Linked DNA regions of Homo sapiens. The protein of the gene in region 3 purifies or fractionates together with the protein of the main gene of each other region. This does not show direct contact. Each region holds a gene or a part of one and is shown on either strand. Other genes may lie near its edges.

What was found.
Region 1: the proteins of TMEM18 (region 3) and MMAB purify together in Homo sapiens (affinity purification with mass spectrometry; one large-scale study listed by BioGRID and IntAct). This does not show direct contact.
Region 2: the proteins of TMEM18 (region 3) and RBM38 purify together in Homo sapiens (affinity purification with mass spectrometry; one large-scale study listed by BioGRID and IntAct). This does not show direct contact.
Region 4: the proteins of TMEM18 (region 3) and TM9SF2 purify together in Homo sapiens (affinity purification with mass spectrometry; one large-scale study listed by BioGRID and IntAct). This does not show direct contact.

Annotation. Positions count from the first base shown.
Region 1 is NC_000012.12:109,559,132-109,566,563, forward strand, and holds part of MMAB (corrinoid adenosyltransferase MMAB precursor), read right to left. Parts: intron 6,046-7,432; coding exon 5,988-6,045; intron 2,722-5,987; coding exon 2,649-2,721; intron 2,387-2,648; coding exon 2,289-2,386; intron 2,199-2,288; coding exon of another isoform or gene 2,112-2,198; intron 1,974-2,111; coding exon 1,909-1,973; intron 25-1,908; coding exon 1-24. UniProt on the Homo sapiens protein: Converts cob(I)alamin to adenosylcobalamin (adenosylcob(III)alamin), a coenzyme for methylmalonyl-CoA mutase, therefore participates in the final step of the vitamin B12 conversion.
Region 2 is NC_000020.11:57,402,742-57,410,173, reverse strand, and holds the end of RBM38 (RNA-binding protein 38), read right to left. Parts: intron 2,632-7,432; coding exon 2,328-2,631; 3' UTR 841-2,327; downstream 1-840. UniProt on the Homo sapiens protein: RNA-binding protein that specifically bind the 3'-UTR of CDKN1A transcripts, leading to maintain the stability of CDKN1A transcripts, thereby acting as a mediator of the p53/TP53 family to regulate CDKN1A.
Region 3 is NC_000002.12:669,448-676,879, forward strand, and holds part of TMEM18 (transmembrane protein 18), read right to left. Parts: intron 7,258-7,432; exon of another isoform or gene 7,193-7,257; coding exon of another isoform or gene 7,127-7,192; intron 6,792-7,126; exon of another isoform or gene 6,329-6,791; coding exon of another isoform or gene 6,311-6,328; intron 6,184-6,310; coding exon 6,063-6,183; intron 3,416-6,062; coding exon 3,361-3,415; intron 404-3,360; coding exon 310-403; intron 229-309; coding exon 133-228; 3' UTR 1-132.
Region 4 is NC_000013.11:99,551,296-99,558,727, reverse strand, and holds part of TM9SF2 (transmembrane 9 superfamily member 2 precursor), read right to left. Parts: intron 6,562-7,432; coding exon 6,402-6,561; intron 4,425-6,401; coding exon 4,273-4,424; intron 3,193-4,272; coding exon 3,081-3,192; intron 1-3,080. UniProt on the Homo sapiens protein: In the intracellular compartments, may function as a channel or small molecule transporter.

The DNA.
Region 1 (7,432 bases), on a different chromosome or scaffold from region 3:
CCCATCTGGACAAGAGGCACCACACTAGAAAGGGAGGAGACACTGAGTCACGTGACATTATGGGGCTCAACAGGCTCTGACCTGGGCCTAAACCTTGAGCAGCATTTCACATCCTGCCACCGCTCAACCTGAACCTGCACAGGCTCGGCCGGCAGTGGAGATGACAAATCCATCACAGGTGGGTTTAAACAGGCCATCGGCCCCCTTTCCACCAGCACATCGCAGGACGGCCTGGCCAAGGAGGGATCAAGGATGGCTGGTGAGTTGAGGGAGCCACCTGGCCTACACCACACCCCAGCCAGCCAGCTTTTGTACCACTGGACCTGGGTCTGGGTGGGGTGAAGTTGGGGTGGTCTGCCTCTAGCCTTCAAAGGAAGTGGGGGCCTGACCCTTAATTCCCAATGGGCTAAACTCTAAGCCCCTTGTACATCATGACTTAGAACAACTTCACAGGGGAGAAAAAGACCCAGGCAGACCAAGCTCCTGATTCCGCAGGATTCTGGATTCCTGGGGTCCATGCCAGTCTATTTGCAGATACATTAGACACTGGACGGCCATCTGCTGGGCACCAGTGTGGTGGCGGGCCCTTGCCGAGCCTTTCCCAGGTATCACCCTGTGGCATACCCCTTGTTGGCAAGCCAGCTACCCAAAGCCCAGCCTCAGGGTTCTCATCCCCACCCAAAGCCATGCACCCGGCTAGCGGCCCAGGAGGGTGTGCACCCAGGCCTGTCACAGAGCTCCAGGCTGTCTCTAGTGGGCACCGCATGCTCAGCGAGGAGCTTCCTCACCCGAGGTGCCCCAGGTGTGTGTCCCCACCTCAGGACAATCTGCACCTTGCCACTGCCATGGCTGCGTAACTCTCTGCTGCATGGAGGACCTATCAGCTGCTCCGCCATGCCTGTTTTCGGGGCCTTTGGGTTGTTTCCAGTTTCTTGCTATTATGAGCACTGCTGATGGATGGCTTTGTACAAATGACAGTTTTTTCTTTTGAAGCCAAAGCTTGTTCTGTTACCTGGGATCTCTAAGGAGCTATCTGGGCCCGAGAGCCTTTCATAAAGAACAAAACCTTAGTGGTGTGGGACCGTGGAAGAGCTCAGGCTTGGCCCAGACAGACGTGGACTCCAATCTGGATTCTGCTATCAACCATGTGGGGGACCGTGACCATGGTGTCATTTCTCTGAGCCACAGCTTCCTGACTCCTGTAAAACAGAGGCCACCACCACCTCTCTCCCAGGGCTATCAACAAGGAGTAAATGAAATTATGAACATAAAGTGCCAGTCCATTGGATCAAAGTAGGGCTTGCTTTCTCTTCTCTGTAAAGCTGGCTGGCAGCCTGGTCTCTGAGTGGTGTAGATAGAGACTTTGCTCATTTTCTTCTAAAGATTCCTTGAAAAGGCTGTCAGTAGCTTTGGAGGAGGTGGTGGCTAGTCTGCTGACAACGTCCACCTGGGCTCCCCACAGCCATGCAGGCCTTTCAGGAGCCTTATGCACCCAGCAGCCAGCAGGGTCCTTTCATGTCTACCCCTGTCCCCAAGATGGCTGAGGCTGAGAACCCAGCAATAACTTCCTGCTGTTCTCAGAATACAGGGCTCACAAACAAGGTGCAATTGTGTTGTCTGATAGTCTATTTGGTCACATGTCACTGTCTCCACTTCACAACATGGTGCTCTGAGGACAGGGACTTGGTCTGTCCTGGTCCCCGTCTGGCACAGTGGAGGGGCCCAGACAAGGTCTGTTGATGTGTGGCTGGATGGCTCAGAGATGGCCCTGCTGTACCTGCCTCCTGCCCGCTGTGCAGAGGCCCCTCTCCCTCTCCCCATCTCCGTCCTCCTCTCCCTCTCCCTCCCCCCTCCCCCTTGTTCCTCTCCCTCTCCCTTGGGCCCTCTCCCTCTCTCCAGCCCTCTTACCGTCTCTCGGCCCGGCGGCACACGGCCCGGCAGAAATGCAGCGCCGAGCTGATCTTGCCTCCCGACTGAAAGGAGAAAGGGACATTGCCTGAGCAGGGTGGGAAAGGTGTGCCCACTGCGGACAGGAGCTCCTCTGAAGTCCAGCCCTGCCCCCCAAACCGGGCAGTGTTCTGCCTCCAGGAGCCCTGCCACGGCACACCCACCGGGCACGCTGCTCCAGAGTGGGCAGGGCTGGGAGGGACCGGTGAGGACCTGGAGGGACTTGGGGAACTGGAGGACAGCGTCTGTCACTGTGAAAAGAGGGATTTATTCAGAGCCCATGTGTGTCTGTCACTGAACCTGCCTGCAGCCGCCCCCGGTTAAGCCTGCCCAGTACCTACAGGCAGGATGAAGGCCGTGAGTGGTGGGAGCTGGCTGGTGTACTTGTCGATCCACTGCTCCAGCTCCAGGATGGGCCCCGCCTTGAACGTGGTATACTCTGAGGAGCCAAGGAGCAGAGGGAACTGCCATGAGGCCATCACCCACCAGACCATGGCGGGAACCACCCCCGCCGCCCTTCCACCTGGGTGTCCCGCAGACTGCTTCCACTGGCTCAGAAGGTACCTTCCCTCCCAGGAGCTACGAGCAAGGCTAACTGACCCACCCGTGGGTCCCTGGGGGCCTGGGATCCCAGATGGTGACCCTAGGAGAGTCCCCTGACCCTAGGGCCCTCTGAACACCCACAGGAGTTTGAGAATTACTTAAGTGAGCCTCCCGGGCCGAGGAGCATGGTGTCGCCAGGGCCGAGCCGACGTCCTGCAATGTGCACTGGATCTGGGGGGCGACAGAAAGTGACAGTCAAGATCTATGTGAGATGGGCTGGACAGAGACAATGTGCAGAGGCGCCACCTAATACGCCGGCAAAGCCTGTGCCAGCTAGCTCATGAAGGGCTGTGATATGGTTTGGCAATGTGTCCCCATCCAAATCTCATGTTAAATTGTGATCCCCAGAGTTGGAGGTGGGGCCTGGTGGGAGGTGATTGGATCATTGGGGTAGTTTTGAATGGTTTAGCCCCAGCCCCCTAGTGCTGTCTTGTGATAGAGTTCTCATGAGATGTGGTTGTTTGAAAGTGTGTAGCACCTCCCTCTTCACACTCTCTCTCTCCTATCAGCCATGTGAAGATGTACCTGCTTCCCCTTTGCCTTCCGCCATGACTGTAGGTTTCCTGAGGCCTCCCCAGAAGCAGAAGCCTGTACAGCCCACAAAACCATGTGCAGATTAAACTTCTTTTCTTTATAAATTATCCGGTCTCAGGTAGTTCTTTATAGCAGTGCGAGAACAGACTAATACAGGCTATCAGACCTTGAACTGGCTGACATTTGAAAGCAAACTCTGAACTTTCAGCACAACATCTTCGTTGGACACCCAGCCCTGCTGAGGGGGACCTGGTGTGGCTCTTTTGCAGTCTGAGGGAGGAAAAGGCTCCCATGGGGGCAGCAGCTGGGTTAAGCAGATGACACGCATCACACACCCAGGGACAGTCAAGAGGAACCGTCTGGGCTCTGTCCACGTCTCCTGTGCACCTAGGCCCTGTGAGGTTTTCTTCTTTTCTCAACATTTGACAGCTTTGGTTTTCTAACCTGTAACAGTTGGGCCAAGAGGTCAAATGTGACAGTGCTTTCTAAACTCTAAAGGACAAGGAGCTTGGAGAATGTAGTCAGCCGAGGCGTGTGGGGATTCTGGGAGCAGGAAGCCTGGCTGGGTGAGGCCTGTGCTCTGTCCAGGTGGGGAGTGGGTTTGCTTGGAACAGAAGTGGTCTGTTAAGGTCTGCTGCAGGACTCCAGGCCCCTGCATGACAAATGTCCAACAGCTCTCATGCATGTGAAGACCACAAGTACCACCTCTGACTTTGTGCCCAGCCAGGGTCCACTCAAGCTGGATGGTGGGCTACCAGGAGGGTGAAGGTCTGCGACTTCTGACCTCTCCTAAGATGGCCACTGTGACAGCATTCAAGAAGCAGGCCATGGTGTGTGAGAGCAGAGGCTGCCCATCCAGCACTGGGCTGGAACCTTCCCAGGGCTTCTGACCAGCAGACCTTGGGCAAGCTGCTTCCCTGCTTGGGGTCTCTGCACTTTCACAGTCAAAGCGGGAGTGATAATACTACCCACTTGGTTGGCCACGTGCAGCGTGTACCCCAAGGGCTGGGGAGAAATGGCACCAGTTTGGGAATCAGATTCCAGCTCTACTGATGCCTGGCTGTGGGGGCTGGGCAAGTCAGCCTTTCTGAGGCTCAGTTTGGCTCCCTATAAGCTGTGGACATTAACTTCCACCTCACGGGTGTCTGTGAGGGTGAAATGGGTGATATGAGGAAAGCAGTGGCATTGCTGCCCGGCCTCATCCACAGGCCCTGCGAGCGGCTACCAGGCCAGGCGGGGCTCCCAGGTGAACCAGACACTGTCCCCGCCCTCACAGTGCCAAGGCTGGGTGGGAGGTGGATGGGTGAACAGGTTAACACCCCTTGTGATGCCTGTGGTTAGAGGATGTGGAAATCCAGGAGCAGTGCCTAACCCAGCTGGAGATTAGGTGGCCAGGGAAGGCCCTTGAGGAGGTGACGTGACAGCTGCGACCCAACGCGTACAGCAGACAGAAATGACCGCTGCTACCGCGGCTCCTCAGGAGGTTGAAAGCCTTCCTCCACCACACAGAATGTTCTGGCAGCTGAGGCTTCCTCCTGCAGCCACAGCCTGTGGCAGCCCCACCTACTACCCTCCGTCTGTTCCCAGGGGCCTGAGCAGGCTCCAGCCTGGGCTTCAGAACGGAAGTGGGAAGGGCTGACCCTGCGGGGAGCGGTTTCTGGGGACCTGGGTCCATGTGGAGGTGGAAAGTGCGGCACCCTGGGCATTCTGGGGTGGTGACCCTGTCTCCGTGCTTGAAGTTCTCTGCGTGGGTCAGAGGCCCCCTCCTTCTTAGGGAACAGAACAGTGACACTGTGACGCATGAGTCCCACGGGCTGAGGGCTCACTGCAGCTAGGCTTCCCAGGTTCCCTCTGCATCGGGCATGAGCGAGGCACTTCACACCGGCTTTCTCAGCCTCGGTGCTATTGCCATTCAAGGCCGGGTCATTCTTCGTTGACGGGGGCTGTCCCCTGCATTGCAGGATATTTACATGCCAGCAACACCCCCAACACCCAGATGTGGCAACCAAAAATGTCTCCAGATATTGCTCAGCGGGCCCTGAGGGGCAGAATGGCCCTGGGTTGAGAACCGTTGCATTTTAAATTCCCTCATTTAGTACAATCCTCCCCACTCGCCTGTGAAGGAAGATTATATGTCTCCAGTTGTTTGTTTTGGAGACAGAGGTTTTTTTTTTTTTTTTTTTTTAAAGACAGGATCCCACTCTGTTGCCCAGGCTACAGTGCAGTGGTGTAATCACATCTCACTGCAGCCTCAACCTGTAAGACTCAAGCGATTCTCCCACCTCAGCCTTGTAAGTTGCTGGGACTATGGGTGCATGCCACCATACTTGGCTAATTTTTAATTTTTTTTTTTTTTTGTAGAGACAGGGTCTCCCTAAGTTGCCCAGGCTGGTCTTGAACTCCTGGCTTGAAGTGATGCTCCCACCTTGGCCGCCCAAAGTGCTGGGATTACAGGCTTAATTGAACCATGGTGCTCGGCCTGAGACAGGGTCTCAATCTCTTGCCCAGGCAGGAGTGCAGTGGCATGATCACAGCTCACTGCAGCCTTGACCTCCTGGGCTCAAGAGATCCTCCTACCTCAGTTTCCTGAGTAGCTAAGGCTACAGGCATTCACCACTATGCCTGGCTAATTTTCAAATATTTTGTAGAGTCAGGGTCTTATTATGTTACCTAGGCTCCTGGCCTCAAGTGATCTTCCTGCCTCAGTCTCCCAAGTAGCTGAGATTGCAGGTGTGAGCCACCATACCTGGCCTGTCCGCATTTTACAGATGAAGAAATGGAGCTCACAGAGGGAGAGTAACTAGCCCCAGGTGACACAAAGAGTAACTGGTGGCTGGATGCTGAGTCCCGTGATGGCCACCGGGGCTGAAGATTCCCAGCTTGGGTGAGATGGTGTTACTCACTTTCTGAAGCTCTTCGGCAAATGTATGGCCCTTTTCTGTGACTAATTCCAGAGCAAACCTATGAAGAAAAAGGAAAAAGAATTTGCCTGTAATGTAATGTCCCTAGGCCCTGTCTTGCCATAAACAATAGATTCTCAGGTGGCAGGCCATTTAGTTAATTTAGCTATAATAGCCATGTTATTTTTCTTGCTAACAATAAGAACATTATAGCCTTCCATTTGGGGGCGGTGGTATTTGTTTCTTGAAATGCCTTTTCGGATGCTCATTATTTCCAGTCAAGAATTCCTTTTGAACAGCTACTCTGGCCAGGCCCAGGAGAGTCAGTGGTGAACAGAAGCTGACCCAGGCTCTCTCCAGCAAGTTGGTGACAGGGTGAGCAGTGACAGTCTCAAGTGCTGGATCCTGAGCTCTGACCCGCAGCCCTGTGGTGATAGGTGAGTGGGAACCAGACAGACCCAGGTGCAAATTCTGCACCGCTGCTGAGTGTCTCTGGGACTTCAGGCAAAGCTTACACCTTCATGTTCAGGAGCGTGATATTCAGGAGTGTGATAGGTAATCAGATTAGACATACTCCTGAATGTGAAGGTGCAAACTGAGATCAGTGCTCTGAAGGAAAGAGCAATAGAAGCCTAATCTGACCTTGGCTAGAGAGGCAGGGAGGGCTTCCTGGAGGAGGTGATGCTGGAGGGGAGACTTTGAAGGCTGGGGAGGACTTCCCTCATAAGGCAGAGAAAGCAAACTGCCCCCCGACACAGGTCAGGACCCTGGCTCTGCCTCCCTCAGAACCCTGCACTTCCCTCCTGCACCAGTCAGTGCCCCAGCAGGAGACAGTGGCGCGCTGCAGGGATTCCTGGAGGAGGGCTTTGGGAAGGGACAATTCACAGAGGTATGGGCAGAGTTTCAGGGAAATGCAGGAGCCTGAAGGGCAAGGGTCGGGGAAGGTACAACTCACCCTGGAGGGAGCTGAATTCTGGAGTCACTCAGCAGGGAGGGAGTTAGGTAGGGAGCCCAGCTGCCACCAGAGCCATGCACCACTGGGGAACAGGGTCACACACACTCATGAGCTCTCTGCACTCACTCTCCTATCACCTACTGGTGCCTCCCACTGGCTGGACCCACCTGAATGCCAGAAGACCAACGAATCGAGGTGGCACAGCCACCAGGTGATAAGGTCAGCCTCCCATGCATAAAGAGAAGGTGAAGAGAAGGGATTTGAAAGGGCCAATGGAGAATATCCAGCCCATCTTCCTGGCACATCTTACAGTTAGAACTAAACACACCAGTATGTGATTCCCGTCTGGTGTGTCTTCCCCTCTGGACCAAAGGGAGGGCTGTGCAGGCTGGGACACAGTCTGTCTCCATCATAGCGGATGCCCCATGCCTGCCTCACAGGAGGTGTGCAGAAGTACCTGCTTGCCGAGGGATGCCCCGTGACCAGGCCAGTG
Region 2 (7,432 bases), on a different chromosome or scaffold from region 3:
GAAAGCCCCATGCTGCCCTCCCTGACCCCTCACAAGCGTTTGCAAACTGAGACAGTGGGAGGGAGGGGCCAGCCGGCAGGGCCTGGGAAGAAGTGCAGACCCCCACAGAATCCCTATCCCCTCCCTGCCGTAAACCTGTCAGTCTCCATCACCCTGGGGCATTGTTGTGTCTCCCCCAGCAGATGATAAACCCAAAGGGCAGCCCTGTCTGCTCTATCCCCAGCGCTTTGCGTGTGACCCAGCACACGTCTCGGGATGACACAGTGAGTGAGCAATTCAAGGAAGGAGTTGATGGATTCTCCAGCCCTGACACCTCCTCTATGAAGGCCTTGTGATTTCCCCAGCTCTGAGTTCCAGATGCTGGGACTATCCAGCCCCAGACCAAGGCTTCCCTCCCAACTCTACCCTAAGGGCAGCTGTCCTGGACACCTGCCAACGTCCTCTCAGGAACCCACATTCAGGGTCTTCTGGTGGCAACCCCCCTTCTCTGGGGGAACTGTCCTCCTATTCCACAGGGATCTGGTGGGGCTGCCAATCACAATCCACGTCCAGGCCCCTCCCCAGCCACAGCGCCAAGAAGTAACCCAAGCGCAGTCCTCTCCGGGTCTGAAGCTGATGCTGGATGATGCACGGCGGCTGGGACGCCAGGCCTCCCCTGCATTAGCGGGTGTGAAGAGGGGCTGCGTCTGTTCTGCTACTGAGGCTCAGCGGCCGGTGCAGGCCAGGCGCTCTATGCACGGCTGCCAGTGAAATCCTGGGTTCCTGAGCCAGGAGGGCGGGGCATGGGTGATGCCCACAGGCACGAGGGGAGCTCTGCGTTTTGAGAAAAATTAGATCAACTTTTTCTTTAAAGAAAACAAGTTTTATTTTTATCATCAGAACATTCTAATAAAAATATTATGATGAGATTAGCTACCTTTATTCTCTGAGCCTTGACTCTGTCCCAGGCCTGCCCTGGAGCGCCTGCACGCTCAGCTCCCTGAGGTAGGTCCGGAGGGAGACCCCCCGCTGCCCCCCGCCCTCGGCCAGGATACCTCTCACCTCATGTCCCCTCCTCCAGACCCCCACAGCCCTGGATGCCCCATAGCAGCCCTGCCACGGCTGGCAGAACTGCCTCCACCCTCCACCAACCCCCAAGACAGGCAGGAACCGTCTCAGGCTGGCACACAGCAGGTGGTGCGGGGGTAGAGGGAAGAGGCGCACCCTTCTGCACTCAACCGCTCCAGCGGGCAGAGCTGAGGGCCACTGCCCCCCCCAGGCTGGCACCACCATGGTCTAGACCCCAAGTGGCCTGAATGCTGTGGATCACTTCCTTCTCCCCTTCCACAGTGTTTGGGGAGTTGGGGAGGAAGGGAAGGGAGAGGAGTGTCAACGTCGCAGTGACGGGGTCCTGAGACAACTCACTCTGCCACCCCGGCAGGCGGCAGCAGACAGTGGCCCGCACGGGCCTGAGGGGCCTCCTGTCTGTGGTGCCCATCCCACCGAGAGGATCCTGGCCCGCGAGCCGGCAGACACTTTATTATACAGAAACACTATCGTCGTCTCCACGGGCGGAACCAACAAAAGCAAGTCTCTCCAAGTCAAAAATAGGTTTTGGATTCTTGGTGGCGGCAGTATCCGCTGAAAAAATAGACTGAACTTCTGAAATTATCTTAGTAGCAAAACAATTACAAGAAAAAAGTTGCAACTTCAGTGCTATGACTGGAAAGGGGCCTTTGGCCGGCGGCCCCTGTTACCGGCGGCCCCTGTGCGCCTGGGAGCTCCTCCGGGCTTGAGGAAGCCGCCCACGTGCCCTGATGGAGAAAATGGGACTCCAACAGGAGGCCGTGTCCTCACACCTCAGACTGCGCTCACAGCTCGGGAGGATCAAGTTACAATAAACAGTCCATTAACTTCTTGCTTTCAGGTTTCCCTGGAGTCAGGCATCTCTGCACAGTCCAGGGCAGCCAGGGGCTGCAGAGGGTCTGTGACACCCCGCCACGATGCAGCAGTGGGGACACAAGCCTGAGGGAACCTGGAGTGTGGAGAGGCAGGAGAAGGTGCAAGGAGAGGCTGCCATGGTGTGCAAGGAACCTGGGATTGCGTCTTTAAATAGTTCTCAGTCATTCTTAAAGTCCTCCCTCAAGACACAATGGGACCTAGATTAAAGAGAAGCCGTCTCTCCGCTGTCCCAGGGCGCAGGCGGAATGCCCGAGCGGTCTTCGGAGGCACGGGTGCTGGTGGCACCTCACTGAAGCTCAGCCGGGCTGTCGCCAGCCCATCATGGCCTGGCAGCTCTGTCTGCTGTGAAGGTGACAATGCCACAGTCCTCGGGGCAGGAACGCCCCTCACTGCATCCTGTCAGGCTGCAGCTGCGGCGCCTGGTACTGCACGAAAGTGGTGCCCGCGGGTGCTGCGGCTGAGAGGGCCTGGGGCACGGCGGCAGGGTAGCTGTAGCCCACGAAGCTGGCAGCCGTGGCAGGCGAGGCGGCGTATGGGTACTGGTCATAGGTGGCCGGTGGGTACTGGGCGTAGGCCGGGCTGGCCGGCGTGTACTCAATGTAGGGCGAGGACAGCGACGGGACAGGGGCGGCTGGGATCACCACGCTGGGCTGCACGATGGCTGGTGGGTAGATGTAGTGCGGGGTCAGCCTGTGGGGCCAAGCAGAGCAGGTTAGGGCCAGAACGGAGTTGGGGAATACAGCTGGGAGAACAGTGGGGTACACGATGCGTGCCGCCCCCCACCCCGAGCCCCGACTTTCCTCATCGGTCAGATGGGCACAGAAACAGCACCTGGCCAGATGCTGCCGCCTCAAGGCCTTCGCACTGACTGTCTGCACTAACCACCAGGCTCCCTCCTCCACTCCATGTCTCCTTCTCAGCAAGGCCTTCCCAGACTGCACCCCCGCATCCCAGCCCTACACCCCACATCCCCGGAGCTGGTGCAAAAATAAAAATCTTGAATGGTTGTTTTCAAATGATTGAGAGTTTGAAGCCACGACGGCGGAGCATGCGATCAAGAGCAGGGCCCGGTACGAATGTCCTGGTTGCATGTCTGGGAGGCCAGCCCTGTCCCCCTTCCCTGCTCATCTCCCTGACACTCAACACCCACCAAGTGACACTGCACACTTGGCTCATGTACACGCCTGCTCTCCCAGCCAACACCTGCTCCTCACAGGGTTTGTTTTTTTTTTTTTTTTTGAGACAGAGTCTCGCTCTGTTCCCCAGGCTGGAGTGCAGTGGCGGGATCTCCGCTCACTGCAAGCTCCGCCACCCGGGTTCACGCCATTCTCCTGCCTCAGCCTCCTGAGTAGCTGGGACTACAGGTGCCCGCCACCACGCTCGGCTAATTTTTTTGTATTTTTAGTAGAGATGAGGTTTCACCGTGTTAGCCAGGATGGTCCCGATCTCCTGACCTCATGATCCGCCCACCTCGGCCTCCCAAAGTGCTGGGATTACAGGCGTGAGCCACCGTGCCCAGCCCTCACAGGGTTTCTTTCTGTCCCTGCCAGCATGGACTCTGGCCTGCAGCAGCTCCGTGAGGATGTGAGAGTGACTGCGTGAATGCTGGAGCAAAGGAGTGCAATGGCGGTGACCACAGAGATGATGGCGCCAACAGCTGCCATACTCGCCAGCGCCCACGCTGGGGGGAGACCCGTACTGTGACTGGGTGCGTCACCCCGTCGGCTTGGTCTTCCCATCATGAGGCCCATTTCACACACGGGGCCAGGTGAGTTGCCCAAGGTCCTACAGCTGATGAGGTGGAGGGGCCAGGAGTCAGCCGGCCTCAGAGCTGTGCTCTTAACCCTACCTGGGCAGGCCACTGTGGAAACGCATTGAGGCCAACACTTCCTGCCTGCTGTGGGCTGGCCATACAACAGCATGCCCAGCCCTCAGCACAGGGGGAAATGAGGCTCAGGGAGGCAGCTCTCCTGGCGTGTGCCTGCTCTGCCAACCAGCTGCTCGGTGGCCTGGGGCAAGCCGCTAAGCCTCAGTTTCCCGTCTGCAACAGAACAGCCACCTCCGCGGCATCAGAAGCTGCTGCAGAGTCCGAGGCACGGAGTGGTCTTCCAGGGCACGGCACTGTGCCCTGGGCATCAGTATCTCCTCTGCCTTGCACGCCTGCGTGTTACACAGGCCAGGCCCGCCTGGGGGGTGACTTGGAACCTCAGCTTCCTTCTGACCTGTAGGCAGGGGCCCCCCTCAAGGGAAGCAGCTCTGGAGAAAAAGTACAACATCCTTCCCTGCATTCTCCTGCGTTCGGCAGGGACAGAAACTGGGCAGCTTTCTGGAGCGCGGTTTGGCAACATGTGGGCACTGAAAACACAGTGCTCCCTCCCCAGAGCCAGGGACCCTCAGTGTCAGAGAGGAGCCCTGCGAGCTCCCTCCCCAGAGCCAGGGACCCTCAGGGTCAGAGAGGAGCCCTGCGAGCTCCCTCCCCAGAGCCAGGGACCCTCAGGGTCAGAGAGGAGCCCTGGCTTCCAGCACAAAGGCAGGTGCACTCAGTGGATCCTGCAGCCCTACAGCAACGGTGGAAACCAGGAAAACCTGGACGACAGGGCCTCTTGCTCCCCCCACCCCATCTGGGAAGTGTGTGGGAAGTTTCTACACTGCGTCACCCTCTCTACTACTGTTTACCTTCCAAGGTTGAGCCATCCTAGTGGCTGCTGTGGCCACACCTGCAGCCCACACGGCCAACCCTCCACAGCATCTGTCCAGAGGCCCAGGCAGCTCCTGCCAGGAACCCCGCAGTGGCGCCTCCTGTCCCTCTCCCCAGGTTAGAAGCCTCTGCTGTCCACCCTGCATCCTCCATGGGAACAAGGGCCTCGCGCGGAGCCAGGCCTGGGTTTGAATTCTGACTCTCGAGCTGTGACGCCTTTCTCACATATCTGCCAGGATGCAGAGAGGAGCAGACCACAGAGCCCCTGCCCTCGAGGGGCTTAGCTTCTAGGATGGGAGAGGCACCAAAATGCACCAACCCATAAACCAGAGTGGGGGGCTCAGGGGAAGTCAAGACAGCAGAGGGCTGTGATGTGTGGACAGCGATGGGGGAAAGGCCAGGGTGGCTTCTTGAAGGAGGGGATGCCTGCAGAGACCTAATGATGAGGCAGAGCTGGCCACAGGGGAGCAGCATGGCGGCACAAGGGCGGAGGCAGGCGCCAGTCTGAGTGTCTGAAGAGTGGATGAGGGCAGCCGGCAGCCTCTGTGCACAACCCTCTCGTGGCACCTCCACCATGGGGGCGGCCGGGTCTGCTGACCCCTGGCTTCCACTGCACACCCAGGTCCACCCTGGTGCCGGCCCATGCCCCACAGCGCCTCAATCCCTCGCATCCTCCCCACCTGGGCCTGGCACCTGCCAATGCCTCTGCCTGGAGCCCTTAACCTGGCGAGGCCCAACCCCACATGGAGGCCAGCCCCTCACCTCGCTACGCTGCCCGATGCCCCACTGGATGGCGTTCTGTCAGGGAGATGGCTCTGTCTGGACTCCCAGCTCTCTGCCAGGACCAGGCCTGTAGGAGGCACTGGGCACATGGTGCTGACGGAACAAAGGCCCGGTGGGTGGCACAGACCCCACTGAGAAGGATGAGGAGCTCTGGCCAGCGGAGGCAGGGGGCCCCAGAAGGGTCTCGGAGGCCTCCCTTGGGAAGGGGGCGAGTGGAGACACAGCAAGGACTGTCTTGGGGCTGTGCCCAGCAGGCTGTCCCTGGCATCATCAGTGCCCCCCCGACCCAGCTCTCAGAACCTCGAAAACATTCCTTAGTAGGAGGCTATGGAAGCTTTGAACCCACACACCTTCTCCAAACATGGGCAGTGATGCCCCTGCCTCAGACATCTCCCCGCAAGGTTTTGCTAAAAATGTGGATCCCATGCAGACTGCAAAGGCAGATGGGGCCCAGGAATGTGCAAGAACAGGCCCCGGGGTCCTGATCCACAGCTGCATTCAAGAACCGCTGCCCAGACCAGGGACACAGAACACAAGTGCCTGGGGCTGTGGGGCAGCTGGGTTCCGGCCACACTCACCTCGAGGGCTGCGTCATTTCTATCGGGTTCTGATGCCCCACATCATCGGGGCCAGAGCGCTGCCTTGGCCACCAAGGAGCTGCCCTACTCAGGGACACTCAAACACAAGCGTGGGTGAGCAATGTTTAGGCTGGGGAGGAAGGCGGGGCTCTCCTGTTTCCTGACCCTTGCAGACACTGCATGTCGGTATCTACTCATCTTTCTGTACGTAAAGGGCCTGGGATAACTTACGAAGCATTTTCAAAGCCACGGAAGGCTGGGCGCAGTGGCTCACGCCTGTAATCCCAGCACTTTGGAAGGCTGGGGCGGGCAGATCATGAGGTCAAGAGTTCAGGACCAGCCTAGCCAACATGGCGAAGCCCTATTTCTACTAAAAATACAAAAATTAGCCAGGTGTGGTGGCGGGAGCCTGTAATCCCAGTTACTCGGGAGGCTGAGGCAGGAGAATCGCTTGAAACCAGAAGGTGGAGGTTGTGGTGAGCTGAGATCATGCCACTGCACTCCAGCCTGGGCGAAAGAGCAAAACTCTGTCTCAAAAAAAAAAGCCATAGAAAAGATGCTAGTGTTAGCCCATCTCCCAGAGAGGAAATCCGAGGTTCAGAGAGGCCCCAAGCGACTTGCCCCATCGCAGAGCAAGGGACTGGTACAGTGGGGCCTGCTGCTGGTAGCTGTGCCTGCAAGGACTGGCTGGGGCCCCAGGTTCAGCTCAAAATAAAAGGAAGGCACAGCACGGGCCACACCTCAAGCCCCAAGGGGGAGTGAGAACACCGGCTGAAGTTAAGGTAGAAGCAGCCACGAAGCCCCGCCAGGCAGGAGCTGGGTTCCAGCAGCTTCTCTCCCTCCTAGGGTTGCGCCTCGCCCCTGCACTTGTCTGAGTTACCAAACAGGTTTCAAAACTTCCAAGGCGCAGTTTCCTCATCTGTAAGTTGGGTCCTACAGAGGCTGACCTCAAAAGCTTGCTGTGAGGCCTAGAGGTGCCACTAGAACAGCGATTCCCAACCAGGACAACTGTGCCCCCAGGGGACACTGGAAAATGCCTAGGGACGGTCCTAGTTGTCACAACTGACAACTAGGAATATGAGGTGCGGGTGGGGGTGCTGCTGACATTAGGGGTCGAGGCCAGGGGTGCTGACCGCTTCCTACAATGCTCAGGGTGCCCCCACAACAAAGAACGATGCCGTCCTAAAGGTCCGCAGTGCCAAGGCTGAGACGCCCGACTGTGGACCATCAGAAACCACATGGGGAAGGGGAAGGGCAAAGACAAGGGATCCTCACTGCTGCTCTGACCACAGGTGCCCACGCCGGGCGGCCACAAAGAAGGCAGGTGGGAGCAAAGAGAGACAGAGGGGCTCATGCAGCCACGCACGCATGGGCGAACCCACTGAGTGGTCAGGTGAGAAAGAAAAATGCAGCCAAACCACCGGCCCTGCAC
Region 3 (7,432 bases):
GGATATTTAAATAAAACAACGGTTTTTCAAACCATGAGTCAGCTGGAAGGATGCCCACGCCACGCACACTGCAGCACTGGGAGCTGCACTGGGTGGACGGGAAGGACGCAAACTCCAAGCAGCTGCTGCCCCTCAGTCTTCTTTCCTTCTCCTTTTCTTTTCCTTTCTTCTCTCTTGTGCATTCTTCAGGTCAGTCATCACATTCAAAGTCTTCCATACCCACATAACCTAAACACAATTGTTTGAGACATGTTTAGATTTGAAAAACATACACATGAAGAAAGACAACTGAAAGTGTCATCTACGTACCACAATGATCATGGCATTCACCAGCAGTGGGGCTGAAAATACTATAGAAATGAACATCCCCCTGGAGTCGAAATACTGGTATTTCGAAAATAATCTGTTTAAAAAACAAAAACAAAAAATTACTAGGCAATACAACCAAAAAGTTCTAGTGACACCGTCTATTTAGATAAGACTTTGGAGAGAGCTGATGTGGACTGAGGTGGGAGCAACACCCTCACTGGGCCCACCCTTGGGAGCAGCGGTAATCTCCACTGTACTGTCCCAAATGCAATGAATGCTCATTATGAAGAAAACACACTGGGTCACAGGACAGGGAGACACCACCCAGCAGCACAGGAAAGACCCCGAGGCCTCCCCCAGCAGAGAGACGTCACCCTGCAAGCCCTCTGGGTCATCAGCAGCACATCTGACCTTAGCTGGAAGACACTGATGACTTGAAATCCTTAAAACCTACAGAGTAACAACGTCAATAATCCCCTCCCCGTAAATGACAAAGGGACAGCAGCTGCGTCTGCTCCACAGCTGCACTGGGAAGGAGTGGTGCCGGGCCCTTCCATCCCTTTGGTTCTCATAGCAGGTCCTCTTGCTGTCAGTGCCAGTGCCTCTTTAGCAGAAGAGACTGAGGAAGGCGGAAGATCTCCACCTGCACAAAGGTACAGCGCCAGGGAGGGCAGAGGATCTGCACGTGGGTGTTGATGATTCTCTCAGCAGCCAGCACAGGAAATGCCATCAACAAAGCTAGTAATGGTGGGCAGTGGGTCAGCGCCTTGTGAGCATGGGGCTCCTGCCTTGCTGGCGCTCACAGCTAGTAATGGTGGGCAGTGGGTCAACACCTCATGAGCATGGGGCTCCCGCCTTGCTGGCGCTTACACTCTATACCATGGGAGGCCCAGAAGTAAGAGGCAGCCAGTCCAAGCATGTGGCGAGTGCTGCTACAGAGAAATGTGAAGCCTGTCGGGGGTGAGGGGGCCTCGTGGAGTCGTAGGCACAGCCATGAACGGCTGGGACAGAGCTGGCAGGAGGCCGCAGGGCATCACTGCAGGACTCCGCGTTTACTCTGGGGGAGCTGGGGACACTCTGGAACGTTCTGAGGGGCAGTGCTTGGCTCTGAGGCCCACGCTTCCCCAGGATGCCCAAGAGGCTGGGCAGTCGGGGGACGGCTTAGGGACCGCTGCATGTCAGCAGCGGGTCGGCGAGGGTGGGGTGAAGGGCATGGAACACACTGGGCTCGTGGCTGATCTTAAAGGTGGAGGGACGGAGCTTCCTGAACAATGCCCTGTTACGTCTCTGGTCTAAGAAGCTGGAGGGAGAAGCCGCCCCTACGAAGAGGGGGGAGCAGAGCAGTCGGACTGAAGTGTGAATTTTGAGATGTTTGTTAGACGTCCTGGTGCCCAGTCCAACAGGTGGGACAGGCAAGAAACCCAGCGCTTTTGAAACCAGGAGATCTCGGAGAAGCATGAAGACAGGAGGCTGCGGCCAGAGGGAAGGGAGGGGCCAGAAAGGTGCTGCACCCTGGAGCTGGGTGTGGGAGGGCTTCGGGGAGGATGACCCTGTGCCAGCCTCTGGACAAGGTCAGGGTCACCAGGGACTGAACACCCCTCCTGGGACTGAACCATGTGAAGGCCCTGCATCCGGGAGGAGAGGCAGGGTCCTCCTGGGACTGAACCATGTGAAGGCCCTGCATCCGGGAGGAGAGGCAGGGTCCTCCTGGGACTGAACCATGTGAAGGCCCTGCATCCGGGAGGAGAGGCAGGGTCCTCCTGGGACTGAACCATGTGAAGGCCCTGCATCCGGGAGGAGAGGCAGGGTCCTCCTGGGACTGAACCATGTGAAGGCCCTGCATCCGGGAGGAGAGGCAGGGTCCTCCTGGGACTGAACCATGTGAAGGCCCTGCATCCGGGAGGAGAGGCAGGGTCCTCCTGGGACTGAACCATGTGAAGGCCCTGCATCCGGGAGGAGAGGCAGGGTCCTCCTGGGACTGAACCATGTGAAGGCCCTGCATCCGGGAGGAGAGGCAGGGTCCTCCTGGGACTGAACCATGTGAAGGCCCTGCATCCGGGAGGAGAGGCAGGGTCCTCCTGGGACTGAACCATGTGAAGGCCCTGCATCCGGGAGGAGAGGCAGGGTCCCCAGTGAGCCGCTTATGGCTAAAGAGAGGGCAGGGAGGAGGGAGGGCAGAGACAGTGCTGCAGGGACGCTGTCGTGGAGGGAAAGGCTGAGCAGGGAGGAGCAAGGCAGGAGGAGGCCGAGTCAGGGGAGGGTTCGGGAAACCAGGCGGGGTCTAAGCAAAGGATTTCAGGGAGTGCTCAACAACCCCTTTCGGTGAGGGCCCAAGATCAGTGTTCAGGGCTTATGGGCCACAAGGCCACAGTCTCAGCTCCTTCCTGCTCAGGGTCTGGCAGTTTTACTTTTTTTCTGTTTTATATTTTAAAACGTAAAAGCCATTTTTAGCTCACAGGCCACTCAAAAACAGTCCGTGGGTCTCACTTGACAGAGGCTGTGTGGTTCAACCTGGGCAGGTGCTGGGTTCCGAGTCCCCTGGGATGAAGCCAGGGGTAGAGGAGGGGGCAGAGGACGCAGGGCCAGGGCTGCCAGCGGTGCCCCCCGACATCAGGATGTGGGGCTGGGGATGAGGCAGGCAGGTGCCCCAGACCACCCAGAAGCCCCCTACTCAGGTCCAGACTCCCCATGGAGCAGCCACCCTGCAGTCCAAGGGGGAGGGCATGGCTGAGGCCAGCGCGGACCACGTTCTCTAAAATGCTGCTGTTTCTATTCTGCAGCTCAAATTCCCATGGCCACTTCTCTGGCTCTGCCATCAGAGGCCTCAGCCAGCACTGTCCCACAGTGCCACGCTCAGAAAGGGCCACTGTGGCGCTGGTAAAGCATTTACGGAGTCACCCTGGAGCCCACCAACCCTGGATGCACGGGCACGGGCTGTGCACAGCTGCCACGTTAGGATTCACTGTCTCCTCCGCGAGTCCCACCGGCTGTGGGGCCATTCCCAGGGACACCCCTGCAGGGACCTGGTCACAGGCCCGGGGGTGGGCTCACCTCCAGTTCATCGCAGCCGCCTCATTGATGTATTCAGCACAGTAGACTAAGATGACTGAAAAAAGGTACAAGTCATATTAGAATTTAGATGGCCCGTTATTACTCGTTATAAAGTTATACATTCTTTACAGCAGAATACTGAATAGAAATGTCACTTTAATTTTAAACATAACATCAGGTAAACATCCTAACATTGTCAAGTCGTAGGACTCACCCATTTAGCAGAAAGAAAATCAAGGCCAACAGTGCTTCAGTTCTCCAATGCTCTATGGTCTCACTCAGAGCCCGTGCTCAGGTCAGCACCTGCAGAGCTACTGCAGGAGCCGCCCGAGGCCCCAGGCTTCACCCAGGCATGGCTGGACCTCACACATTTCCCCAGGGACAGCAGCCACAGTTCAGCCCCACAGAACACGGCAGCAGGAGCTGAGAGCCACGAGACCCAGAGCTGACAACCAAGGGCTTTTCACGCTCACACTTCCCGGGCTGACCTTGGGACACTGCCACTGAGATGACCATAGGAGGGGAGCGAACAGCTTTGGGGTGCTGGAGGCAAAGGCACGGGAGGGAGGGCAGCAGCTGGTGGGGGCAGGGCAAGGCCTCCATGCTCCCAGGAGCACACAGACTTTAGGGACTGGCCCAGGGTCTTCAGCTAATTCGTGGGTAATGCTGGTACTCAAACCCATGAGACAGTGACCCATGGTACCATAAAATCAAATAAAATATGATTCGGCAAATTAAGAAAAATGTGATGCTTCAACTTCCAAGGTAAATCAAACTAAAAATCCTTTCATTCTTCTTGATACACATCAGAAAGCAGATTAAACTAGGGGCTACGGTGAGCAGTCCCTCCACTTCCTCCCTTCAGGAATGGACTCAATAAAGCAGAGGAAAAGAATGCACAGGGAAAGAACCAGAGGGGAGGGGAGGGAGGAGGAGGAGGAGGAGGGGGAGGATGGGGGGGAAGGAGAGGAAGGAGGGGAAGGAGGAGGGCCAGGAGAAGCAGGACAGCCAGGCAGGTGAGAAGGGTAGGCTAACACAGGAGGTGGTGGGCATGGGTGCGGGGAGGAAGGTGTGGAGGGCTGACGTTACAGGGGGAAGGTGGGGAGGGTGGTAGGCACGGGAGGAAGGCGGGCAGGGAGGGTGTCACCAGGTGCTCCTCCTCAGCTATTCCTGAAATGCACCCTGGAGCAGAGTCTGAATCTTGAATCTTGATGGTGCTGGTTATAAGCTGTATAGCTGAGGGAGTTAGAGAACCTCTGCATGTTTCATTTATAAAAATGGGCAAATAAAATCCAACTCTTGGCTGGTTTGAGAAATGAATCACAGGAAATGTAATGGCAGGCAGCACAGTGTCTAGTATTACCCCGGTGTGAAAGCAGTCATCCTTCCCCTTATCCTAGAAAACATCAAACCCTTTGTGCAGTTCTCCAGCTGACAAAGCTATTCAGATCCAGGAGCTCAGCTGGTGAAGCCATCACCTTTCTTTGAGATGCCTGCCTCAGGGCCTCTGCGTGGGGCACTTGCTCCTGCCCTCTGCCAGCATCTCACTGCCTGGCTCCTGCCTATGCACCTTTTGCCCCTGGGTTCCCAGGGGACTGTGTGATTTAAATCAGGCCGCTCCTCCTGTTTCACTGTGTTTTTGGCTTTTCCATTGCAACACTTGTCACTGTTGATAACACAGGTCTGTGATGAATCACTGGTGCTGGTGTCCCCCAGGAAGCTGTGGGAGGCAAAGGAGCCCTGTCTGCCTGGTCCACTCCAGCACTCCTCAGGGCACCCTCAATACAGAGCTTGCTCTGAGCGCCTCACTTGCATAGGCCCCCACTGTGATGCAAACCCTCATCACTTCTCCAGTCTTTCTAAGATCATCTCTTCTTCAGATTTCCCGCTTTGCACACAGCCAGCTAACTAAACTTATCTGAAATTAGTTATTTTTAACTACCAAGCAAAATCTTCAGTGTCTCCCCAATGTTGAGAGTCAAGAGTAGCCTGAGCCAGGCCTCCAGGCCCTCCTCGCCTCTTCTACCCACACGTGTTCGTAACGCTCAGCATCAGAAGTGCTTAGGTCCTGGAGGGCTTGCAGTTTCTCTGCCTCTGATCCACACCTTCCATCTATCTCAGTCTCTGCATGTCGGGCTGCTGCCCTCCCAGGGCCGTCACCTGCTCCCTCTCTTTTCTTATTAACATTTTACTCACTCTTCACACCCTGTGCCATGATTTCAGCTTTTCTGAATAATCTTTCTCAGTCATCCTGTGCAACTCCCTAACTTCTCTAAGTTCTGTAGCCCTTATCCTTGAAACCAAGTTGGGCAATGCCTTATTTTATGCACAGAACTTTTCTTTCCCAGTTTGCAATCTTCCTCCCATTCAAAGCAGTGCATGAGCACAGCTGCCACCAAGGACGCATCTTGTGTAAAAGACAGCACTTCCGGAAACCCAACTCTCCTGTGTGCAGCTGGTGCTCAGCACCTCCCTGGTAGGCAACAGGAACTCAACAGATTCCTCTCAACTCTAACATCCAAAAAGTAGTTTTCTTTATAGCTTCCAAGAGTGAAAAACGGGAGTGCCCTGGGAGCAGGCACATGACAGAGGGTTGGGAGGTCTTGTAAAAATATGTATATATTTCGAAGACACAGACAGAACATACACAGTTTCATTTCACACAGTGATCTGAGTTGTGGAGTTTGTGTTGTTTTACTCACCTAGACACAGAAAGTGCCCGATCTGTAGTCTGTAGCTTCGGGAGGACAAGCAGGTGAGGAGCACGCAGAGCGCGTGGAAGGTGGCCAGCCCCATGAGCCAGGGCTCAGTCCAGTCCGTCTGCTGTAGGAACACACCAGCAGACACTCACTGTCCTGCCACTCAAGGCCGGGTTCACGGCCCACCCACAGCCTTCTCCCAGCGCAGGAGGCAGGGGCCTCTCACTCCTGAGTCCTCCTGGGCTACTCACCAAGTATCCAGAGAGCATTGCCAGGCCTCAGAGAAACATGGGGACAGGAAAGGGAGAAGGAACCAGGAGGATGGAAACAGGATTCTCCCCTCAGTGCAACTATAATTCATGGAATTCAAAGTTCAAGCACACAGAACTGAAGGCATCTCTGATGTGCTCCTTTCGTTTGTGGAACAGAATCATGTTTTTAAGGTGGGTATAATTAAAGGAATTACCATCCTTTACGATGATAATTGGTTATGATAATTGGTGACGACAAGGAAATTAAGACGATTGCTCAAAGAGATGCACTTGGCTCAGCCCCAAAGGTAAAACATGAATCATCATTTCAGACTCCTTAGTCAGCACTGAAGACCTCAGGGAATCTTGAGCCATCGCCACGTGCAAGACTTGATTTTCTCCAACCTCTCTGCAATACACTGAACTCTCCAGACAGTGCCGCACTCCGCCGCCTCCTGGACTCCCCGGGACCCTGCTGTACCTGGGGACAGTGTCTGGCTCAGGGACCTGAAGTAGCCAGGCTCAGATCCACTGCTGCTCAGTCCCCACCTGATGCTCAGATGCCAATCCCAGCAGTCCTCAACCCTCCCCATCCCCTCCTTGAGCGCCCTCCTGCAGAAGACAAGCCCTGCCCTCCAAGCTGCAGCCCCGCCCTGCCCTCCAAGCTGCAGCCCCGCCCTGCCCTCCAAGCTGCAGCCCGGCACAGCCCTCCAGAACTCCTGTGTCACTACTCTCTGCTGGGGACCGCAGCGGCTTCTCCAGAGCCGCGCCATGACATAAGGACACAAGCGCATCTACTCCCATCAATGCACCCACCAGAAGACCAGAGGCACGGAGGTGAGGGGAGCACGGCTTTCTGCCCAGACCCCATCGAGTGCCCATGTCACCCCTTGGCGGCCACGTGGGGCGTGGGCTCCCCTGGGATCTGTCAGACGAACCCGGCACGGCGCACGCCCCGCCCACACTGGGCAGCGTTCCTCCGTGCCACCCCACACGATCAGGCTCCACCACGCACGCCCCGCCGCACTGCCAGAATCCGCCCACATGGCCCAAGCCCCGCCCGCAAGACGCTGGACTGGCCGGCGTGCACCTCCCACACGAACAAAGCCCTACCCCTCGCGC
Region 4 (7,432 bases), on a different chromosome or scaffold from region 3:
ACACAAAATGCAACAGCTAATCAACAAATGCAGCAAAATTGCAGGGTATAAGATCAACATACAAAAGTCGGTTTTGTTTTTACACACCAGCAATGAGCAATCTGAGAAGAAAATTTAAAAACCCAATTCCATTTAAAATAGCACCCAAAAGAATAAAATACCTAGGAATAAATTCAACCAAGGAAGTGGAAGACTTGCACAATGAAAACTCTAAAATTCTGCTGAAAGAAATGACAGAAGACCTAGGCAAATGGAAAGACATCCCATGTTTACGTACTATTAGACTTAACACTGTTAAGACAGCAATACTCTTCAAAATGATCTACAGATCTAATGTAATCCCTATCATAATTCCAATAATCCAATGATTCAATTTTTGCAGATTGGAAAAGTTAATCCTCAAATTCAAATGGAATTGCAAGGGGCTCCAAATAGTCAAAACAATCATAAAAAAGAGCAAAGCTGGAGGACTCAGCCTTTTTGATTTCAAAACTTACTACGAAGCCACAGTAATCAAAATAGTGTGGTACAGGCCTAAGGGCAGCATATAGACCACTGGAATAGTATTGAGAGTCCAGAAATAAACCCATACATCTATGGTCAATTGATTTTTGACAAGATTGCCAAGACCATTAAATGAGGAAAGAACAGCCTCTTCAACAAATGGTGCTGGATAACTGGATATCCACACGTCAAATAATGTAGCTGGACACTACATCACACAAAATACAAAAGCTAACTCAAAATAGATCAATGACTTAAATACATGAGGTAAAGCTATAACACTTAGAAGAAAACATGGGGGTAAATCTTCATAACCTTGAATTTGGCAATAATTCTTTTTTTTGGTCGGGGGTGGGGTAGGAGACAGGGTCTCACTCTGTTGCCCAGGTTCTGGAGTGCAGTGGTGTAATCATGGCTTACTGAAGCCCTCCTGGGCTCAAGTGATCCTTCCACCTCAGCTTCCCAAGTAAGCCATCACACCCAGCTAATTTTGTTATTTTTTATAAAGACAAGATCTCACTATGTTGCCCAGGCTGGTCTCAAAATCCTGGGCTCAAGCGATCCTCCCGCCTCAGCCTTCCAAAGTGTTGGGATTAGAGATAGGCGTGAACCACCACACTCAGCCCTAATTTGATAATAATTCTTAGATATGACACCAAAAGCATAAGCAACGGAAGAAAAAAAAACAGATACATTTGACCTCATCAAAATTTAAAACTTTTGTGCAAAGGACATTATCAAGAAAGTGAAAAGGATAACCTATAGAACCAGAACTGCAAATAACAATCTGATAAAGATCTACTATTCAGAATAAATAAATAAACTCTTACAACTCAACAAAAAGACAAACAAATTTAAAAATAGGCAAAGGACTTGAATAGCTATTTCTCCAAAGAAGATATACAAATGGCTAACAAACACAAGTACAAATGCTCATCATTAGTCACTGTGGAAATGCAAATCAAAACCAGAATGAGACACCGCTTCACACCCACGAAGACAGCTACAATTTTTTCAAAAATGGAAGGTAAGTGTTGGCAAAGATACGGAGAATTGGAACCTTTGTACACCACTGCTGGTGGGAATGTAAAACGGCACAACCACTGTGGAAAAGTTTGGTAGTTCCTCAAAAAATTGAACAGAACTACCATATGACCCAGTGATTCCACTCCTAGATATATACCTCAAAACCAAAAACAGGTATTCAAACGAACACTTGTACATGAATGTTCACAGCAGCACTATTCACAACAGCCAAAAAGTAGAAACAATACAAATGCCCACCAATGGATAAATGGATAAACAAATTTATCATTCTGCCATAAAAAGGAATGAAGTGGCCAGGCGCGGTGGCTCACGTCTGTAATCCCAGCACGTTGGGAGGCCGAGGCAGGCGGATCACGAGGTCAGGAGATCGAGACCATCCTGGCTAACATGGTGAAACCCCGTCTCTACCAAAAATACAAGAAGCAATTAGCCAGGCATGGTGGCAGGCGCCTGTAGTCCCAGCTACTCAGGAGGCTGAGGCAGGAGAATGGCATGAACCCGGGAGGTGGTGCTTGCAGTGAGCTGAGATTGCACCACTGCACTCCAGCCTGGGCAGCAGAGCGAGACTCCGTCTCAAGAAAAAAAGGAAAAAAAAAAAAAAAGGAATGAAGTACTACTATACATGCCATGATATGATGAACCCTGAAAACATGCTAAGTCAAAGAAGCCACACACAAAAGGTCACATATTATATGATTCAATTTGTAAGAAATGTCTGAACAGGCGAAACAGACAGAAAGCAGACCGTTGGCTGCTAAGGCCTGGGGGAAGTGAGGAATGAGGAGCAACTGCTCAGCAAGTATAGGGCTTTAATTAGGGGTGATAAAAATATTTTGGAACTAAACAGAGGTGGTGGTGGCGCAACACTGTAAATGCAGTAAGTGCCATTAAACTGTCCACTTCAAAATGGTTCATTTTCTGTTATGTAAATTTAACCTCCATTTTTTGAATAACACACTAAGTTTAATAAAGTTAGCTTTTTCTCCAATATAGACAATATTAAATAGTAGATTTAACACAACCTAAATCTTTAAAATTCAATTCTACCTATTACATAAGGATACTATCATTTTGGTGCTGCCATGAATAGAACTCATTACAATGTGATTATAGAAACTTTTTAATGAATTTTCTTACTAGTTTACTTTTATTAAATTTTCAGTCTAAAATTTTTTTTGTATTTTTTAATAGATTATTTTATATTCTTTTATCTCAGGCATGATATAAATATTTGTATCACAAAAGTATTAATTTTTAAGTCAGTTAAAAAACAACAGTAAAAAGTTAGCACAACATACTATTCTCAGAAAATTAACAAGTTAAAGTCTCTAATAGTAATTTCCAACTAAATATACTGAACTGGGATATCTTAATCCTAAAGAAGGTTACATTTGATTTAGGAATACAGGTCAATGTCTATCATAATAAACATACATCTACAGAAATTATTTTAATTAATAATATACAAATTGCAATATGCCAAAGTTACTGTCTACAAATTAACATAAGTGAATACTGCTAATACATACCTCTGCACATAGGTGGAAATAGCAAAGAAGTATAGTTGCTTCAGAACAGGTAATAACCAAAATGATAAACACCAGAAATAGGAAGCCAAACATGTAATACATCTGGTGTGACCTATAATCAAACACGTCAAGAAGGAACTATAAATATTTTCAATTTGACACAATACATAACACAATCTTTTCATTCTTCTTGAACTGAAAAGGTTTGCTTTTTCTCTCAACTAACCAAACAAGACGAATTATCACAGGTTGGGATGGTGATGGGGTGGGGAAGGGGAGGAGTAGGAAGGATATGTCAGTATCACTGGACTTTACCTTCCTGCTCAGGGAGGCCTGAAACTTCTACTTATTTACATATGGCTAGACTACTCGTCTCCTGGTGAGCCAGAGATATTTGATAAAAAGTGACTGAAAAGGCAGAGCCAACTAAGAATAGGTAACCGTTTCTTATCACATATAATAAAACCAGTTGAATTTGGAAAATTAGTATAACGATTAAGAAGCAAAGATATGTTCTAATCATTAAAAAGCTCAAATTTAGTTCTAACTTTCTGTAACCTCCAACCTTGGTACTTCCTGTAACATACGTCAATGTGATCCAATAACAATCATGATATAACACTATATATAGATATACACACACACAGAATGGCTCAAAATGACTATTATGAGTTTTTACATGTGAACAAGCAATCGGAGAATGAAGGCATCTGAGAATTGCAAAGGACTCTGCAGGTCACCTAGACCAATCCCTTCACCAATCCCCTCCGACAAGTGCTCAGAGGATCTTCTCTGAACAGTGCAGATTAGTTAGGAACATAGGTTTGGAGAAACTTCGGTGAATTTTCTGTCACAGGGTTGCTGTGTAACACAAGCAAATTACTCAACTTACAAAGCCTCATTTACAGCTCTGTAAAATGGGGATAACACTCACCTCACAGAGAATGAAGTAGTAAGAATTAAGGAAGAGTAAGAATTAACAAGCCTTGAATTCATATTATACTAGCTGTTATCACTATTGTTCTTCTTCCAACATGGAAAAGATAAAAATAAGCTTTTGGCTTTTAAGATTTCTGGTTACTGAAGAACTGCTTACATTTACAGGATACAAATAGTAACCCATATAAACAAACAAAAAGGAAATATTACATATAATGGTAATGAGAATGAGAGGACTTTATCCTTAGCTTACCAAATACTATTCAGAATGAAGAAAAGTTGTATAAAGATGCAGCCAAAGGGCAAAATCCCTCCCATGATAATACCAGGCAAGGGCTTCGTGTAGAACGACTGTTCAGGAATCTGACGTGGAATCTGATTGGTTCGAACTGGGTGTTCAATGGCCTTCAGTAAAAAAAGGAAGGAAGAATTCATAATTACGTATCTGTCTCAAATATTCTTCTCTACACGAGATTATTTGCCTGCTTTTTTTCAGCTTCTATGTTGTCACTAATGGCAATAAAGTCTACTTAAGACATCAAACTGAAATTTGTCTTTGGAAGCCATCATCCAGGTACCATCAGGTACAATACTCAGTCTGTCTACTGGAACAAGTTAATACTGTCTCCAGCAGTGATCTACTGACTAATGGCTTTAGACACAGGAAAAAGTACACAGGAGATAAGAGAATACTTGGAAAATAATAGTTAATAAAAAGGTAGAGTTAGGCTTTTCATTTTCATTACACATGTACTGTAAGAAATCAGCTGGTTCTGGAATTTTGGTCCATGTATTTTTATTTGGAGGTGCGCAATGTCATCTTTACTAAAATTGCTCAATTTTACTAAGACTTAAGAACATGAAAACAACAATGAATGGCTGTATGAAGCTTTACGACCATAAGGAGTTGGTGATGTTCTCGACTATTCTCCCTTTCATGACACACTACATGGCGGTATAAAAATCACTGGAACCTAAAGGACACAAGCAGCCACATGAGGGGGGAAGACAGTACAGATGTAGAAAGTCATTTCCTTGTAAGAAAGTTCAAAAATATCCTTCTATAGTTTTTGTGATGATAAACCAAAATTTAAAACTTGATATTTTCATTAAGACCATACTTCCACAGACTAGATTATTATTTTACATGTAGATGCATGAGTATACAGGCAGAGAATCATGTATATCAACTTTTATTTATTTCCAAGGCTGATATTAAATAGAAATACTATAAACTTCAAACCAGCAAAGTTTTGGAATTTCAAGTAATTGTTTAATCAATGTAATTAAAAAATTCAAACCCTGTCAGTTCACTACTTCTGAGGTATAAAGTCATAAATTAAACAAAATGCCGAAGAAGTTTAAAAAAATCCTTCAGCAGCCAGGCATGAAAGTGCAGTGGAGGCTGTGGAACAGTGCCAGCTTCTGCCAGGGCCTTCCGGGTCCTGCTCACAAAGTGTACTAACCACACAGTCTTTCTTTTACCCTGTGGACTTGATATTTTCAGAGGACAGGGATACTGAAGTGCGGTTAGAGAAGGATACTGATGAGACAGAAGAATAAGATCTCGTTTTTGTTTTTCTTTTAGCCTGAGGGCAGGAGTGGGCAGCAAAGTGAGAGAAGGCCGACTGGAGGGTGAGAGGGAAACTGGAGGAAGGACTGAAACCTGATTATAATCTTCCTTAAAATCCAATATTAGCAGGGAAGCAGATACAATTTATTTCCAGCAGATACAATTTATTTCAAAGCTACATATCAACCACAAACATTTGCTACTCTTACTCTGCAGCTACTTTTCTTACAGTGACTTCTTCTCTGCTTACTTAGCTAAGCTTTGTGCACTTTGGGAGGCCCAGGCAGGTGGATCACCTGAGGTCAGGAGTTCAAGACCAGCCTGACCAACGTGATGAAACCTTGTCTCCACTAAAAATACAAAAATTAGCTGGGTGTGGTGGCACATGCCTGTAATCCCAGCTACTCGGGAGGCTGAGGCAGGAAAATCGCTTTAACCCTGAAGGTGGAGGTTGCAGTGAGCCGAGATGGCGCCACTGCACTCCAGCCTGGGTGACAGAATGAGACTCCATCTCTAAATGAATGAATGAATGAATGAATGAATGTTTTCATTAGTTTATATCAGCATTTCTTTCCCAATTAATCTATATTAGCTTCTATTCACTTAAAAAACTTTGAAACCTAAGTTTAGATCTGTAACCTCTCTACCACGCTCCTAAATAATACTACTATTTTAAAAATATTCTATGAAATCCAGATCCTAAAGGACAAGTTTACATCTTTACACACTTTTATGGTATCTTTTGAGATGGCATATGCTAATTTCTGCAGCTAAAATTCACCTGAATAAGTTAACACCTATAAACTTACATTCTTCTTAAAACCAAAGTATGCACCAATAAACGTCAGAGGCACAGATATGCAGAACCAAAGGGCCAATATGGCAACCAGTGTCCCAAAAGGAATAGCTGCTGAAGATCCTTCTCCCCAGAGGATCAGATTCATTATAAAGAAGTCAGCAAATACAATCCTGAAAGACACAACAGGCTTTTGGGTAAAACCAGAGATAACAAAATGCAACAGTAGTATGTAATTAATATGACAACTTCTATGTTTCTAATATATATATACAAAGAAAGTGGAATTGCTGCATCACAGGATGTCTGAATGTAAAACTTGACTAGAAACTACCCAATTGCTCTTCAGATTGGGTTTGCCTGAGTTAAACTCCTCCCAGCAGCCTATGAAAGTCAGTTCCTTACATGTTTTCATTACACTTGGGATTGTCAATTCTGTTGTTTTAATTTGTATTTTCTATTGAAAACTGCAGCAGGCGTCTGGTGTTTGCTGGCTTTTTTGGTTTTACCTTCTGTGACGGGCTACTGACATCCACTGCTTGGTTTTCATTTGACCTGCATGTCTTGCCAAGTCATGTATGTGAGTTATTTACATATTCTACTTACTAATTCCTTGTTAAATATCTTGTCACAGTCTGTGGCTTTTTTTGAACCCAAACATCTAAATGTGTGTAGTTAATTTCCATTCAGTCTTTCTTCTGAATACATTTTTAAAAATATGGTTGTAATCATACAATAATCACTGTACTTCCCCCACACAGTTTTTAAGCGCAACCACTTTCCCTTTTATCCTTTGTGCACTCTGCTTAAGAGAAGAAAGCCTTCCCTAACCTGGGACCATGAAGATGCTCTTCCATATTTTCACACAGTAGTTACGCCTGGTGCATTTAGGTTTGACTCCACCTAGGACTGACAACTTTCTCCCTTCATGAAGAGAATCAGCTGTCCCAGCATCACTTATCTAACAGTTCCTCTGGCTCATGGTGCCACATCTAGCACGCTGCCATGGATACAGGGCCTGCTTCTGTATTCTCCATCCCAGCA